Linked DNA regions of Homo sapiens: region 2 is linked to region 1. Evidence: fine-mapped expression QTL. Tissue or cell type: whole blood. Region 1 holds a variant in brackets; the other region holds the start of a gene. All regions are shown on one strand. Distances are between the middles of the regions.

Region 1 (8,116 bases):
CACGCCGGTAATCCCAGCACTTTGGGAGGCCGAGGTGGGCGGATTACCTGAGGTCAAGAGTTCAAGATTAGCCTGGGTAACACGGTGAAACCCCGTCTCTACTAAAAATACAAAAATTAGCTGGGAGTGATGGCGCACACCTGTAACCCAGTTACTCGGGAGCTTGATGCAGGAGAATCACTTGAACCTGGGAGGTGGAGGTTGCAGTGAGCTGAGATCACGCCACTGCACTCCAGCCTGGGCAACAAGAGTGAATCTCCATCTCACAAAAAAAAAGAAAAAAAAAGAAAAAAGAAAATTTTCATAATAAGAAAAAAACTACTACACAGAATACCAAACCTATTTTGAGAAACATCCATAGCATATACTAAAGGGAAACACATTAAAGTGTTAGCAGTTTTATTATAAGTAATTTAAGTTTTCTGAATATAACATCACTGTCCAATAGAAATATACTGAGACACATAAATAATTTTAAATTTTCTAGCAGTAACATATAAAAAAGGCAAAAAAACAAAAACAAAAATAGGTGAAGTTAATTTCAACAACATAATTTAAGCCAATGTATCCAAAATATTACCATTTTGACATATAATACAAAAAATTATCAATGAGCCATCTTACATTTTTTGTACAAAGTTTTTGAAATCCAGTGTGTATTTAACACTTACAGCACATCTCAATTTGGACTAGACACATTTCAAGTGCTCCTAGGGCACACATGGCTTATAGCTACTGGATTGGATAGTGCATCTCTATAATGAGCATTCATTACTTCTATAACTAGAATATGACATATTTTGACATGGAATGAAATTAAGTAAGTGAGATGTTGCAGGATTTTTCTAAAAAATTCAAAATTCATCAGTGCAGTTTTTGAGGTCTTCCACAGTAAAATCCATACCTACATTCCCAAGGCTGATTTCCAACGACTCACCGGTAGCCATATGGATTACTATTTAAGATAACTGAAGACGACTGTATCATTGAGATTAAGACCACAGACTCAGAAAAAGGAATAGAAAATAAACAACAACAAAAACCAAAGAAACAAAAACAAACAAAAAAGATCACACAGTCTGAAAAGGAATGCTTGGGTTCAATCCCAAATCCACCTCTTACTATCAGTTGAATAACTTCGGGAAAGTATTTAATAACATAAACTCTGCCTAATTTCCTCATAACAAAATAACAAGACCTACTTCATCAATAGCTATGGTCCACAGACGAATGCCTTAAAATCAAAGTGGTAAGATGTTATTGGTAATACTCATTTCCAAGTAGTTTTCCTACCCACTCTCACATTTATTCAACAAATATTTCATCATTTTTCAGTAGTAACTTACTGAGTGACGGAAACTTGATTAACTGAAAGGACAGAAAATGGAACAACAAAGTGCGTTCAAGAGCAGGTACCTGGGGCTATGCTGGGAGAAGCCAAGAAGTCCCTCCTTCCTCCTCTTTGCAAATTCGGAGGCGGTGAATAAAAGGATGCTGTCAGCACGATGGAGTCTCTATCCCGGATAAACGGCGGTAAACATCCCCACGCATTGGAGCCCGATGACTCAATCCTTCTTAAAAAAAAAAAAGATCTGTAAAAGTTCGGGAAGAGCTCGGTCTCCTGAAGGATACGACAGAAAGGCCATGGCATAAAGCCCTGACTTTTCTTCTCTCTTCACTGGAGCTTCCAGTAAAAAGGGCGCTTGTGAGGGAATCACTGTATCAATAGCAGGAGCCAACCCAGTATCAGGTGCCACCACTGTTCTAAGGTTTGACCCGTATTATCTTGTTTAATTCTAATTACAACCCTACACAGTAACGACTATCTTTATTGCTATTTTAAAGATGAGGAAACAGGAGCGCGGATCATAGGTAACTCGCTGTTTATTATACCCACAGAACTAGCGGCGCTGCTTGCCAAGTGCGGGAGGAGAGCAAACTTCCCGCCCTCGGCCTCTCGGCCTCCGCCGCGGCCGCGACCTCTCCATCCCAAGACTGATGGCTGGGGAGCGCCTATTCCCAAGCACAGGCTGAAAAGGTTCAAGAGGGGTCGTGGGGGTGCAGGGCTGACTCACCTCCCGGACCCAAAAGATGGTGGCGGCCTCGCTTTCCGGGGCGGAAGTGGCTCTGCCTGCCCAGAGCTCCTGAACTACCCTTCCCAGAAGGCCCGCGCTCCTGCGGCCCAATTGTTTCCGGACAGAGTTCTGGAATACGTTTCCCAGAACTTCCAGAAGGAAAAACCATCCAGGTGCCGCCCTCTTCGCGCTTGAAAAAAAAAAAAACAAAAAAAAAAACGGAGCGAGCGAGTGAGAGAGGGTTACGGAGAGTGTGACAAAATTCTCGGAGCTCCCGGACTACAACATCCAGAATCCTCTTCACGGCTTATTGCTGTTTAGCCAGGCTGAAGCAGTTCTCTGATGTCAGTGGAATTTAGGTTTTTCTTATTAACAAAAAGTAACAGCAAATATGTGAAGAATTGGAGCCCTAAAATAAAAAAAGACTCCCAGCACTTTGGGAGGCCGAGGCGGGCGGATCACGAGGTCAGGAGTTCCAGACCAGCTTGGCCAATATGATGAAGCCCCGTCTCTACTAAAAATATAAAAATTAGCCGGGCGTGGTGGCGCGCGCCTGTAGTCCCAGCTACTTGGGAGGCTGAGGCATAAGAATCGCTTGAACCCTGGAGGGTGCAGTGAGCCAAGATCGTGCCACTGCACTCCAGCCTGGGCGACAGAGTGAGACTCTGTCTCAAAAAAAAAAAAAAGAAAAAAAAAACTATTATAAGAAACAGATCACGTGATCCTGTACTAATAGAATTATACCCACCACTTCCAAAAAAAAAAAAAAAAAGGGCAGAGGAAACCCTTTAAGTTTTTACATTTAACAGGATCGACTAATAGAAAAACTACTCTTTAGATACTAAAAGAATGAAAGAGCAATCAAAAAATGCAACGAAGGCAGAATATATTATGGATTTCCACTTTTCTTAATAGCACAGTCATATAATTCAGAACAACTTGCTTACTGAGGATAGCTAGACATAGAAAACACAAGCTTTGGCATATGGTAGATCAACTCCACAAAGCAACTAGGGCCTCTGTAATCATTCCTCAAGGAGTTTCTGAATTTGAAAGATGAACAAATTTATTACTTCAGTGTTTAAACCTTGATCTTTATTTGCTTAAATGTATAATGGAATTGATGTTTCCAAGAATTGAGGGTTGAAAGAAGAGAGCAATACCTAAAAATATCCACATATCTACTACAGTACATGTTTGCAGTTCTCATTTACTAAATATATATTCTTTATTCTGTTATATACAACTATCTCTTATAAAGAACCAAGTATGTGCCAGGAACTAGTTCAAACTATTCAGACTATGGGACCCTCACTACATTTTCACAACTTTTTTCTTTTTTTTTTTGTTCTGTTTTGTTGTTGTTGTTGTTGTTGTTGTTGTTAGACAGAGTTTGGCTCTTTTGCCCAGGCTGGAGTGAAGTGGCATGACCTCGGCTCATTGCAACCTCCGCCCTCACACAAGGTTCAAGCAAGTCTCCTGCCTCAGCCTCCCAAGTCGCTGGGGTTATAGGCACCCCCCTCCCCACCACGCCCAGCTAATTTTTGTATTTTTAGTAGAGACGGGGTTTTGCCATCTTGGCCAGGCTAGTCTTGAATTCCTGACCTCAGGTGATCCACCCGCCCCGGCCTCCCAAAGTGCTAGGATTACAGGCATGAGCCACCACACTTAGCCCATTTTCACAACTTTTTTAAAACAAATAATGTCCTCTAGTTTACTCTTTGGGATCCAGAGGCAGAGAGAGGTTAAGTATATCTCCTAAGATGGAAATTTGATTATTTTCACCTGCATGTCTATCCAGTGCCCTTAAGAGAAGGTTCAAATGCTTTAACAAGTCGCA[C/A]AAACAGGAATTTTCCAGATGCTGTTTCTCTCTTGGAATCCACTTTCCACTCTACATGTCCAGCCATAGTGGATTACTTGTACTCCTACAAAAAGCCTCTAATTCTTTGTATTTGGTGTTCCTTCTGTCATAACCTGCTACTCTTTTCCCTCCTGGGTGACGGTCTTCATCCATAGCTTAAATATTCCCTGCTCTAATAAGACTTACTGTGGGTTCTTGCCTTGTAGACTAATAAAAGTAGTGTGTAGTAGCTAATATTACAGCCTTAGTATAAAGCTATCTAGATTAAAATACTAGTGCTTCCATTTCTTCTGTCCCCTTTTTCTTCATTTGTAAAATGGAGACTATAATAGGGTTGATATCAAGTACAAATGAATAAATACATGTAAAACACTGGAAATTCTGCCTGATTCATGACTACCCTATAAAAAGTTAGCAAATGTTAACCTCAGGGGATAAACACAGGACACATAAATTATGGATGGAAGGTTTCTACAAAAATTTGCTTTGATCACTAAAATATTATCAATAACCATGCATCAACTTTTGATTACTGGGAAAAAAACTAGAAGACTATGCAAATGCATCCCACCAAAAGTGAGATAAAGAGTCACTAATATTGACATTATTTCCTTTTATTTTTTCCTAAATCCATTTTGGGAATTCTGAATACAATCTAAATGATCTGCAGGTTTCCATTTCAAGATACTGGGCAGCTCCACAAACCACAAACACTAAACCCCTCCTTACCAGTCTTGTGCTGGGTGCTAAGCACATGGTAAAGAATGGGACATAGTTCCTGCAACAAAGTAACATGCAGCCTAAGGGAGAAACAGATCAGATCTAAAAGACCCTGAGTAGGCCGGACTCTGTGGCTCACGCCTGTAATCCCAGCACTTTGGGAGGCCGAGGTGGGCAGATCACGAGGTCAGGAAATCGAAACCATCCTGGCTAACACGGTGAAACCCCGTCTCTACTAAAAATACAAAAAATTAGCCGGGTGTGGTGATGGGCGCCTGTAGTCCCAGCTACTCAGGAGGCTGAGGCAGGAGAATGGCGTGAACCCGGGAGGTGGAGCTTGCAGTGAGCCGAGATCGCGCCACTGCACTCCAGCCTGGGCGACAGAGCGAGACTCCGTCTCAAAAATAAATAAATAAAAATGAATAAATAAATAAATAAATAAAAGACCCTGAGTAAAACATTCCAAATAAAGAAGCCAAATTCATAACTATTCCTTTCCAAATCTCAATGATTCCCTCTCCTTTAGGTTTTTCACATAACTACCTTCCTCCTAGTTGCCAGGAAAGAAAACCCTGAAGTTATTTGCTTTCCTTTGCTCTTCATTCATAATTACTTTATGTTAATTACTTTTAATTTCTACCGACTGACTAGGATTTGGTTTTGATTTTAAATAGTCAAATTCCTCCTCTTCCCACCAAAAACATATGTGGGAGAAGAGTAATAGATGCAATAAGATAGACAAAATGTTTACAAGAGTTAAAGACAAATGATGGCGGGGTGGGGGTCATTAACACTATTTTCTGTATGTGCATGTTTGGGAATTTCTACAAGAAAAATTAGAGAAATACCATGTGGGTGGTATGGCACCAATGCATAAATGCATTTAAAATGTTAGCAGTGGTTATCTCTAAATCCTGAGATTATGGGTTAAAGGAACGGGGTCTCGCTGTCATCCAAGCTGGAGTGCAGTGCCGTGGTCATAGCTCACTGCAGCTTCAAACTCCTGAGCTCAAGCGATCCTCCCACCTCAGCCTCCCAAGTAGCTGGGACTATCGGTATGTGCCACCACACCCAGCTAATTGTTTAAATATACAGCAGTGAATATGGGTAACTTTCATTTCCTTTTATACATTTCTGTATTTTCTAATCTCTCTATAATGGTCATGCATTATTTCTATAAGGAGAATATAGACTCTAAAGCCCCAGATCACCTTCCAAACCTGATAGAAAAAGACTTCCACAAACCATATACACGATTATTTCATATGGTTCTAAGAAAAATGTACAGCGTGGAGAATATGAACACAGACTTGAGGCTCCAACTTCTTGGGTTCATATGGACGTTCTGCCTCTTACTAACTGTACGTTTTAGGGTTCGTCTTCCCTCTTCTTTTTCTTAGAGCATTTCCATAAGAAACCTAGTGCTTCTGAATCCTTTCTCTAACCTTTTGATACGCATGTAAATTTCATTAGCGGCTATGTAAGCCTCTAGCCAGGTTTACAACCTAGAAGTATTTGTGAAAGTTCTGAGATTTGTCCCTTTTGAATATAAACATCTGAGAAAATAACAACCCACTGTCCCTATCACTGCAAGAGTTTAACCAAGGTGCCTCTCTTTAAACTGTAAATCGGCTAGCAGATGAGGTAAGAGAAGTTTTATTACTTTCGATAAAGTTAGTTAACTAACACTGGATTCTCAAGTAAATTTAGAATAAATTTATAAAAGAATTTGCAGTAAATGATGAGACCAAGTCCTCTTATTGAAAAATCATTAATCTTGAGAACTGATGTACATAGTGGTCAAAAGTAGAATTGTATAAAAAGTTTAAAACTGCTTGACTGTACACATAGGGCGGAATTTTTTAATAATATTTTTCTTTAGATTGCCTACAATACTATACAGTGGTTGTCCTTATTCAGTAATAAGACAGCTTTCTTTTCTACATTGTGTGGAGAGGTCTATTATCTTCGTCTCTCTGTTAGAACATAAGTGGTACCTACCACATAACGGTATTTTGGACATTTAATGAATAATTCGTATAAAAGTACAAGGACCTCCTACTAATGACTCTACTTCAGGAATGAGGAGAATGGGATAGAGAAAGATTAAGATTAACTCACAAAACGTTATAACACTAGTAAGTGGCAGAGCTGGCAAGTAGGTGGGAGAGGCTGGCTGCGGAACGCCAGGAGACCCTCTAACCAAGCGACAACCGATCCAGGACGCTCCCAACCCGGGGACGCAAGAACTGCTCCAAACGTGAGGCTCAGCCGAGAGGAAAGAACACAAACTGCTCCCAACTCCAGCCTCCCAGCTGGCCACAGCTTCTCTAGCCTTCCTCCAGACGAGGGCCAGGGCCCCGCTTGCTCCCTGACGAGGCTGAGAAAACTTGGAGGGTCCCAGCGGATCCAAACACTTGTTTTCGCCCTCCTAGAGCGAAAAAACTTCCCAGCAACTAAAGAGAAACCCCGGATCACTTCCCACAATTCCCTAGCTCCGCCATCCAAAAGCGGAAGTGCCCCAGGCTACGCGGGCCCCTGACTACACTTCCCAGAATGCCCCAGGGGAAACCGGCCATAGTTCCGCTCCTTGGAGCGGAAATACTTCCGAGTAACCTGAGCTTCCGGGTATCCTAGAAAGCCAGAGCAAATCTTAGCCAAGATTTGCAATTTTAGAGTGGAAGTGTCTGTCTTGGTGGTACCTACCGATTCTGTTGTTCAAGGGCCTTGGGGAAGAAGTTGGGGATCGGGAGAAGGGTACCTAGTAAAACCCAAAGAGCTGCACTACAGGAGTAAAGATAAAGGGCAAATAGATCATCTTCACTAGGGGACTGAAGCAAAACTTGAAATCACATTCGTACCTGAAAATAGATTAAAGTAAACCTTTTCTGTTAGTGTTTGCAGGTACCTGACATAAACAAAAATATTCTAATGGAGAAAGAGACTATCGTCCTAGGCCTCATATTCTTTCTCTAATTTTAAAATATATTAATATTGGACAAAGTACAATAGTCCTTGAAGAAAAGAACATTTTAAGATATACAAAGAAACACTTCATAGTAATGAAAATTTTCTATCAACTATAACAGCCTTACATAATGTAAAGCAAACTTTATAAAGAAAAATTGATTGACAGACTCATAAGGAGAAAAACACTGATAAACAGGAGAGCTTTTAATACATGATTAGAAGGAAACATAGAAAGCCTTGAAATCATATACAGGTCCTGGAGTTAACAATGGTTCACTTAAGATTTTTCGACTTCATGATGGTGTGAAAGCAACACACATTCAGTACAGTACCTATACAACCCTTCTGTTTTTCCCTTTCAATACCTATTCAATAAATTATATGATATTCAACACTTTATTATGAAATAAGCTTCTTTTTGCTAGATAACGTTGCCCTTGGATCACCTGAGGTCAGGAGTTTGAGACCACCCTGGAGAATATGGCAAAAC
Region 2 (8,116 bases), 46 kb after region 1:
GGGAAGAAATTACTTTCAAAGTCTTTAATGGGAAAATGGAGTAAGTTTAAATACAAACTGTGGGTTAGATAACAGTAAGTTATCAATGTAACTAATTTCATTTTCATCACTATCTCTAGCTTGCTCTCAAATACTTCAGCAAAAAGACAAAAACAAAATATAAGTATGACAAAGTTGTGAAAGCAAAAAGACAAAAAAAAAAACAAAACAAAAAACTACTTTGACAACAGCAGCAACAACCAGAACCTGGTGTTTCCAATTTATCAACAAGAATGAGACAGGTCTACTCAGTGATCATGGTGAAAAAGAAAAAAACAAAACAGCTTGTAACACAGAGAGAAATACATCCTACATTGATAAAAATAGCCAAATAATTGCCTCTTCCATCTAACATGACCACTTTGTTATCAGTGACAACTCCAGTCTTGTTATTTCCCCACCTCCAACATAAAAATTACAATAGTCTGATCAAATTACTACTGCTTCTTCACAGCATCCAATCCAGAACAAACCCATTGCCTAAAACTCTCCCCAACTCATCTAACATAAACCAAAACCCTATAACCAGGGTCCTCCTAATTGCCTCTTACCAAGACACCCCATGCATGTGTGGGCTCCTTGGATGCAGCAAGCTAAAACAAACAATTGTTGTTGGTTACAGGTATGTTCCTGGTGATGGCTGATGGTCATCAACAGAGCACACAGGGAAAACATAACATAACAAACAAACGTAACAACTGGTGAATCTGGGTGTAGAGTATATGAGATTTCCTTACGTTATCATTTTTGCAGCTTTTCTACAAGTTTGAAATTATATTTTTAAAAAAAGTTGGCTGGGCACGGTGGCTCATGCCCATAATCCCAACACTTTGGGAGGCCGAGGTGGGTGGATCACCTGAGGTCAGGAGTTCGAGACCAGCCTGGCAAACATGGTGGAACCCCATCGCTACTAAAAATACAAAAAAATTAGCCGGTGTGGTGGCGGGTGCCTGTAATCTCAGATGTTTGGGAGGTTGAGGCAGGAGAATCTTTTGAACCTGGGAGGCGGAGGTTGCAGTGAGCCGAGATCACGCCATTGCACTCCAGCCTGGGCAACAAAAGTGAAACTCTGCCTCAAAAAAAAAAAAAAAAAAAAAGTTAAAGAAATTAGGAAAGTCATTAATCAGAATAATAACGATGACGAGATGATGACAACTATGGCAATAATATCTAACGTTAATTAACAATAAATAGGTAGCTGATCTTCCCACTTCAGGCAGAAGGCCTCCAGTACAAAAGATGGGAAGGAATCTACTCCCCAAAGCCTGGGAGAAATAGATCTTCAGGACTCTGAGTTTCTCCATTTTGACTCTAGACTTGACAGCTGCCTTCTACTCATGTCATGGTTTTTGCAAAGAAACTTGACAGTTAATATTTAGTGGGAAAGAAAAATCACTGGACTGAGTAGGGTTCTAGTATGGCCAGCTCAGTTTTATCTGTGACATCTGGCAGGGTCAGTTTTCTAGTCCTGAGTTTCCAGATAAGACCTTTTCCTGAGCTTCTCAAACTTTAACATGCATCTCGCTCACCTTGGGATCTTGTTGAAATGCAGATTTCTGGGTCCTATCTGCAAAAATGCTAAATCAGAAGGCCTTCGGTAGGGCTCAAGAATGAGCCTTTCTACCTGGGTGATGCCAATGTTGCTGCTTTGTGAACCACAGTTTGAGTAGTGTTGCACTGTACTCAGTCCCTCTCCCAAAACAGCCCCTAATAAACAGAAATATATACAAGAAAAACTTGACAGAAAGGCACTAAACTATAGTTGTTATCTTTATACCCTAAGGTCATGGGGAATTTACATTTTTTAAATGTATTTCTGTGTTTTCCATGATTATGTGTTACCTCTATATTATTTGAAACAAATAAAACTAATAATTGAGAAAACTATTTTTAAAAACTCTTTTCTTTTTTTGAGACAGAGTCTTGCTCAGTTGCCGAGGCTGGAGTGCACCGGTGTGATCTCAGCTTACTGCAGCCTCGCCTCCTGGGTTCAAGCGATTCTCCTGCCCCAGCTTCCCAAACTCCTGGGATTACAGGTGTTGGCCACCACGCCTGGCTAATTTTTGTATTTTTAGTAGAGATGGGGTTTCGCCATGTTGGCCAGACTGGTCTCAAACTCCTGGCCTCAAGTGATCTGCCCGCCTCAGACTCCCAAAGTGCTGGGATTACAGGCGTCAGCCACTGTGCCCAGCCACTATTTTTTAAAAGTCATAGAATAGCCCAGACCTTGAGCAAAGTCCCCACAGTGAAGTCCCAACCTATTTTCACATGATACTAGCCAGCTGCCTATGGCTCATGCAGAACATACCAAAGAAGACTCAGGTCTAGACTCAGACTGCCTCGGTTTCAATGCTAGCTCTGCCTCCTACTAGCTAGGTGGCTATGAGCAAACAAGTTATGTTCTTATGTCTCAGTCTCCTCGGAAAAAGAGTATCACTTCACAGAGCCACTGTATAGTGGAAAGGTGTTCATTTGTATAAACCCCTTAGAATGGAACTTAGCAACTAACGCTAAATTATAATCACTTCTCATGCCCAAATACATGACCCCACACATTCTCTGATTTATGTGAATAAAACAAGAATAACAACAAGTCTTACTCACATGGGGTTCTGCTGCCTCCTCCTCTGTGCAGTGCTTTTTGAGAAGTCAGGGCTGGGGAAGAAAAACAGGCTATGAAGTAACCAGGATTGTGTCTTCATCCCGGATACATCACAGTGGCATCTCCCAGGACCAGTTAGAAGCAACCCTCTCCTTCCTCAAAAGAGGTCAGGGACAATCCAGCTTCATGGACTCACAGAATTTCGCCACAGAACGGGAGTTTCTAGGAAAATTACAGTAGTATTGGTAATTCACGTGCCAGGCAGTTTTACACTTTTTGTATTACCTCGTTTTCTCTCAAAACATTCTATTAGGAAGTTTTTGCTTTTATTTTCCTTCAGAACAGCAAACGAAGGCACGGGGATTAACTAACTCGCTCAATGTGATACTGTATGAAGTGGTAGGGCTGGCTCATTAGGTGGGGGAGTCACAATGAGGGAGCGAACAGCCCGAGAGACCTTCAAACCCGACGAAGCATCACCCCAGCCGCCCGAAGCCAGTACGCCCCCAATTCTAACAAGCTCCGCCCAGGGAAACGCAAAACAGCATCCTGGCCCCTCAAACCTCCGCTCTTAGCCGCTACTCCTTTTTTTCCCCAAACAAAAGACCGCTAGCTGCTGACCACAAGTGCATTTCGGGGAAGTTTGAAAGGTTCCTGAGAAGCTGACCTGAATCACCAAAGCCAGGGAAAAGATGGCTGCTACGTCGTCTTCCTGGGCGGAAGTGCCTGCGAGTATCAGGAGGACCTGGACTACGCTTCCCAGAATTCCACAGCACTGCCTTCCTCGAGCCGGAAGTGCCTACAACTACCTAGAACGATTGGACCTACAGTTCCCAGGATTCCGCAGGGGAAACATTTACAGCCTTACTGCAGCTGAGCTATGCGCGACTACACGGAACTCCGGACTACATATCACAGAATGCTGGAGTTGGGGGAAAAACAGAACAGTACCGCCCTCCTGGACTACACTTCCGGAATGTCCAAGCCTTCTGATGTGGAAGTGTCCAACTACCTTGAGCTCCTGGTTTTCATTTCCCAGAATCCCTCACTTCTCTTTAGGTATTATTATGGTCTGAGTGTTTATGGCCCCCACCAAATTCGTATGTTTAAATCCTAACTCCCAAGAAGATATTAGGAGGTGGAACCTATGGGACGTGATCAGATCAAGAGGGCAATGCCCTCATGAATAGGATTAATGCTCTCTTATAAGTGGCCTGAGGGAGCTCCTTTGCCTCTTTAGTTATGTGAGGACACAGCCAGAAGGACCATGTATGACTTAGAAAGCGGGACCTCACCAGACACTGAATCTGCTGGCACCCGATCTGGGGCTTATGTGCCAGCAATTTCACTCCTAAGTAAATACCCAGGAGAACTGAAAGATATCCACACAAAAACTTGTTCTAAAAAAGTTCATAGCAGCATTAGTCATAATAGTCAAAAAGTGGAGAAGACCCAATGTCCATCAGCTGATGAGTGGATAAACAAAATGTGGTCTAGCCATATAATGCAATATTATTTAGTAATGTGAATGAACAAAATATTGATTCATGTTATAACATAGATGAACTCTGAAGACATTATGTCCAATGAAAGAAGCCAGACACAAGATACCATATATGGTATGATTCCATTTATATCAAATGTGCAGAATAGGCAAGTCCATAGAGACAGAAAGTAAATTAGTTGTCTCCAAGGCTGGGGAGATGTAGTTGGGAATGGGGAGTGACTGTCAATATGTAGGGTTTTTTTTTTCTTACTTTTTTAGAGACAGCGTCTTGTTATGTTTCCCAGAATGGAGTACAGTGGCTATTCACAGGCATGATCATAGCACACTGCAGCCTTAAATTCTTGGGCTCAAGTGATCCTCCCGCCTCAGCCCCCTGGGTAGTTGAGACTACAGGCATGCACCACCACACCCAGCTCATGTAGGGGATTTCTTTTGGGAGCAGATGAAAGAGTTCTAGGATTAGATAGTGGTAATCATTACATAATATTGTGGATCTTTTCAAAGATAGAAAAATGTTATGTGACAATATCCCCTAAAGCGTTAAAATGTAGCTAAACTCAAAGCTAAGACAGGGAAATCCCAACGGCCAAAGATGAACAGGCAAGTTAGGCCCACAGATGAAAAAACTGAATGATCCCACAAGGGCTGGGCATACTAGGTAAGAGCTAAGGAATTAATCTTGTGTGTGAATGGGAGTTAGAGTAGCCATGCATTTTGGGAGACATGAACTATACAATATTACAAATGAAACAGTTCTCTCCTCTTGACTGTGAACAAACAACAACCAACCAAAAACAAAGCCAGATAGCTCCCAGCTTCTACAGCTGTCTTGTGACTAACCTGAAAACTCTGGTCATGAGGAGGGTAGATGTAGACTGTACCTACAGTCTTATCAGTTATGGGGCAGAGGGGCAAGAAATTATTTGGTTTAGTCTACTGGTTTTGGTTACAAATTACCTTGAAGGAAGATGACCTAATGTGGTATCTGGTGATACAAAGAAAGAAAAAGAAAGAAAAGAATATAGGTACTGGATTTCTGAAGCCCTTTGTTCAGAAAAGAGTTAACATAGGCCTGAGACTGTTGTACTTAAAAGGCCTGCTTGCAACATGCTATAGTTTGATGGTGTTCCCTTGTTAAAACTTAATCCCTTCTTGCTTTTTCATCACTTCCACCATATGAGGACATAGCATCTGTCTCCTCCAGAGGATGCAGCAACTGGATGCCATATTGGAAGCAGACAGCAGCAGCCCTCACCAGATGTTAAACCTGCCAGCATCTTGACCTTGGACTTCCCAGCCTCAAGCACTATGACAGATAAATTTATATTGTTTATAAATTACCTAATCTGTGGTATTCTGTTATAGCAGCGCAAGATATAAGGTTAGCCCTTGACTGGTATCTGGGAACTTGAATTTCAGGAGGATTTCCACAATTCTCTGATGAGAGTGGCTCACCATGCCCCGGCTATTTGTATAATGTGATTTATGCTGAATTCCTTCTGGGAATCTAGAATTTTGGCCCAAGCTGGCCTATGTGACCAGTTCCAAAACAAAACACAACGTAGTGCCTAGGGCACTAAGTCTCCATTGAGCTTACTGGGTAGACATTTCACATGTTTCAATGCTGAAAAAACAGTACATCATGAATGATTCTACAGGGAGTGGATTATTGGAAGCCTGTACCTGATTTCTTCTGGACTTCATCCCATGCACATTTTCCCTTTGCTCAACTGACTTGGTATCTTTTACTACAATAAATCATAGTGACTATGATAACATAGGGTGTCTTGAGTCCTCCTAGTGAATTACAAGAATGTGAAGGTGGTATTATCAATCCCCAGCATACCATGCACATTGAGGTAGCATGGACCTTAATGAGTAGCAAGCATCCAGTGAAGGTATACTGAAGAAAATCAATAGTGGAAAAAAGTCTCCCCAGTTAGATATAATTTATTGAGTAAAGCCCTTTAATCCAGCAGTTCACAACCTTTTTGGCACAGGGGACCAGCTTTGCAGAAGACAATATTTTTCCACAAGGTGAGGTGGGGGGATGGGGATGGTTTGGGGATGATTCAAGCACATTACATTTATCATTTTATTTTCACAAGGAGCGAGCAACTTAGATCCTTTCTTTAAAAAAAAAAAAAGAGTTTCGCTCTTGTTGCCCAGGCTGGAGTGCAATGGCGCAACCTCGGCTCACTGCAACTTCTATCTCCTGCGTTCAAGTGATTCTCCTGCCTCAGTCTCCCAAGTAGCTGGGATTACAGGCACCTGCCACCATGCCTGGCTAATTTTTGTATTTTTAGTACAGATGGGGTTTCACTATATTGGCCAGGCTGGTTTCCAACTCGTGACCTCAGGTGATCCGCCCACCTCAGCCTCCCAAAGTGCTGAGATTAAAGGCATGAGCCACTGCGCCTGGCTGCAACCTAGATCCTTCACATGCGTAGTTCACAATAGGGTTCATGCCACTGATCTGACAGAAGGCAGAACTCAGCTTTGCTCACTTGCCCACTGCTCACCTCTTGCTGTCTGGCCCTGTTCCTAACAGGGTCTGTGGCCTAGGGGTTAGGGACCCATGCTTTAATCAACTACACTGAAAATATCACCATCATGTCCAAGGAATATGGAATGTCATTCAAACCCACTCTTTGTCCTTACTGGTTCCACATCCAGTAAGTGGATTGCACTATATTCTGCTCTTATGCACACTTTTTCCTCAGTGAACCTTTTTAAACATACCTCCCTAACATATGTATACCACTTTGTTTTCATTTCCAGGATTCTCTCTGTGTTACAGATTAATGCTTTAAAAAATGTAGCAAGCAAGGCCGGGCACAGTGGATCATGCCTGTAATCCCAGCACTTTGAGAGGCCGAGGCGGGCAGATCACTTGAGGTCAGGAGCTCGAGACCAGCCTGGCCAACATGGTGAAACCTCGTCTGTACTAAAAATACAAAATTTAGGCCAGGCACGGTGGTTCACACCTGTAATCCCAGCACTTTGGGAGGCCGAGGGCGGATCACAAGGTCAAGAGATCGAGACCATCCTGGCCAACATGGTGAAACCCCGTCTCTACTGAAAATACAAAAATTAGCTGGGCGTGGTGGTGCACACCTGTAGTCCCAGCTACTCAGCAGGCTGAGGCAGGAGAATTGCTTGAACTTGGGAGGCAGAGGTTGCAGTGAGCTGAGATTGCGCCACTGCACTCCAGCCTGGCAACAGAGTGAGATTCCGTCTCGGGGAAAAAAAAAAAAAAAAAACTGAGTTGGACATAGTGGCACGCCCCTGTAATCCCAGCTACTCAGGAGGCTGAGGCAGGATAATCATTTGAATTCGCGAGGCGGAGGTTGCAGTGATTCAAGATTGCACCACTGCACTCCAGCCTGGGCAACAGAGAAAGACTCCATCTCAAAAAAAAAAAAGAAGTGTAGCAGACATTAATTGCAAAGATACAATTGTTCACACTCATCCATTTATCCACATATTCAGAGAATTTTTTTGTTTTTAAAATTGGCTTCCAGAATCTATTAATTATGATCTTATGTGCCATATAACAATATAGAACAATCATATTTTGAAGGGATTATCATATAGCACTTTTTAAAATTCTAATGTACATAATTTACTGCTTTGGTAATACTGATGTTCAATAAGAAATTAAAATGTAATTTATGGAATTATAAAATGGAAAAATACCACAAAATGCTCATTGCAAGAGAAAATTGCTAAAAAAAAAAAAGTATCCTTTACATATTATCTTATGCATGTACATACACACTCACTCATAAAAATGTATAGATTTCATTATGCTACAAAGGCAATAGTCTATGATCTTCCAAAGCCCATATTTTTTCTTTATCCTGTCATTACAGATACCTGCCGCCATTTTAATAGCTTCAGGTCAATACAGGAATGAAAATATCAAAAGTCAAATTATTATAGAGGAACACACACTTCCATTTAAA

The links. PIP is the estimated chance that this variant, and not a neighbour inherited with it, causes the effect.
Region 2: ZNF226 starts here. The variant in region 1 is fine-mapped to the expression of ZNF226 in whole blood (INTERVAL, PIP 0.93).

What each region holds. Positions count from the first base shown.
Region 1 is chr19:44,206,545-44,214,660 of GRCh38, reverse strand. It overlaps ZNF227 (zinc finger protein 227), which reads right to left and starts at 2,129. Exons shown (of 6, transcript NM_182490.3): 1 at 2,076-2,129; 2 at 1,417-1,571. RefSeq lists enhancers at 6,833-6,882, 6,893-6,992. The variant C/A (reference allele first, on the strand shown) is at 3,916.
Region 2 is chr19:44,160,335-44,168,450 of GRCh38, reverse strand. ZNF226 (zinc finger protein 226) reads right to left here and starts at 3,351. Exons shown (of 6, transcript NM_001032373.2): 1 at 3,309-3,351; 2 at 2,644-2,694. RefSeq lists enhancers at 3,330-3,449, 3,510-3,659.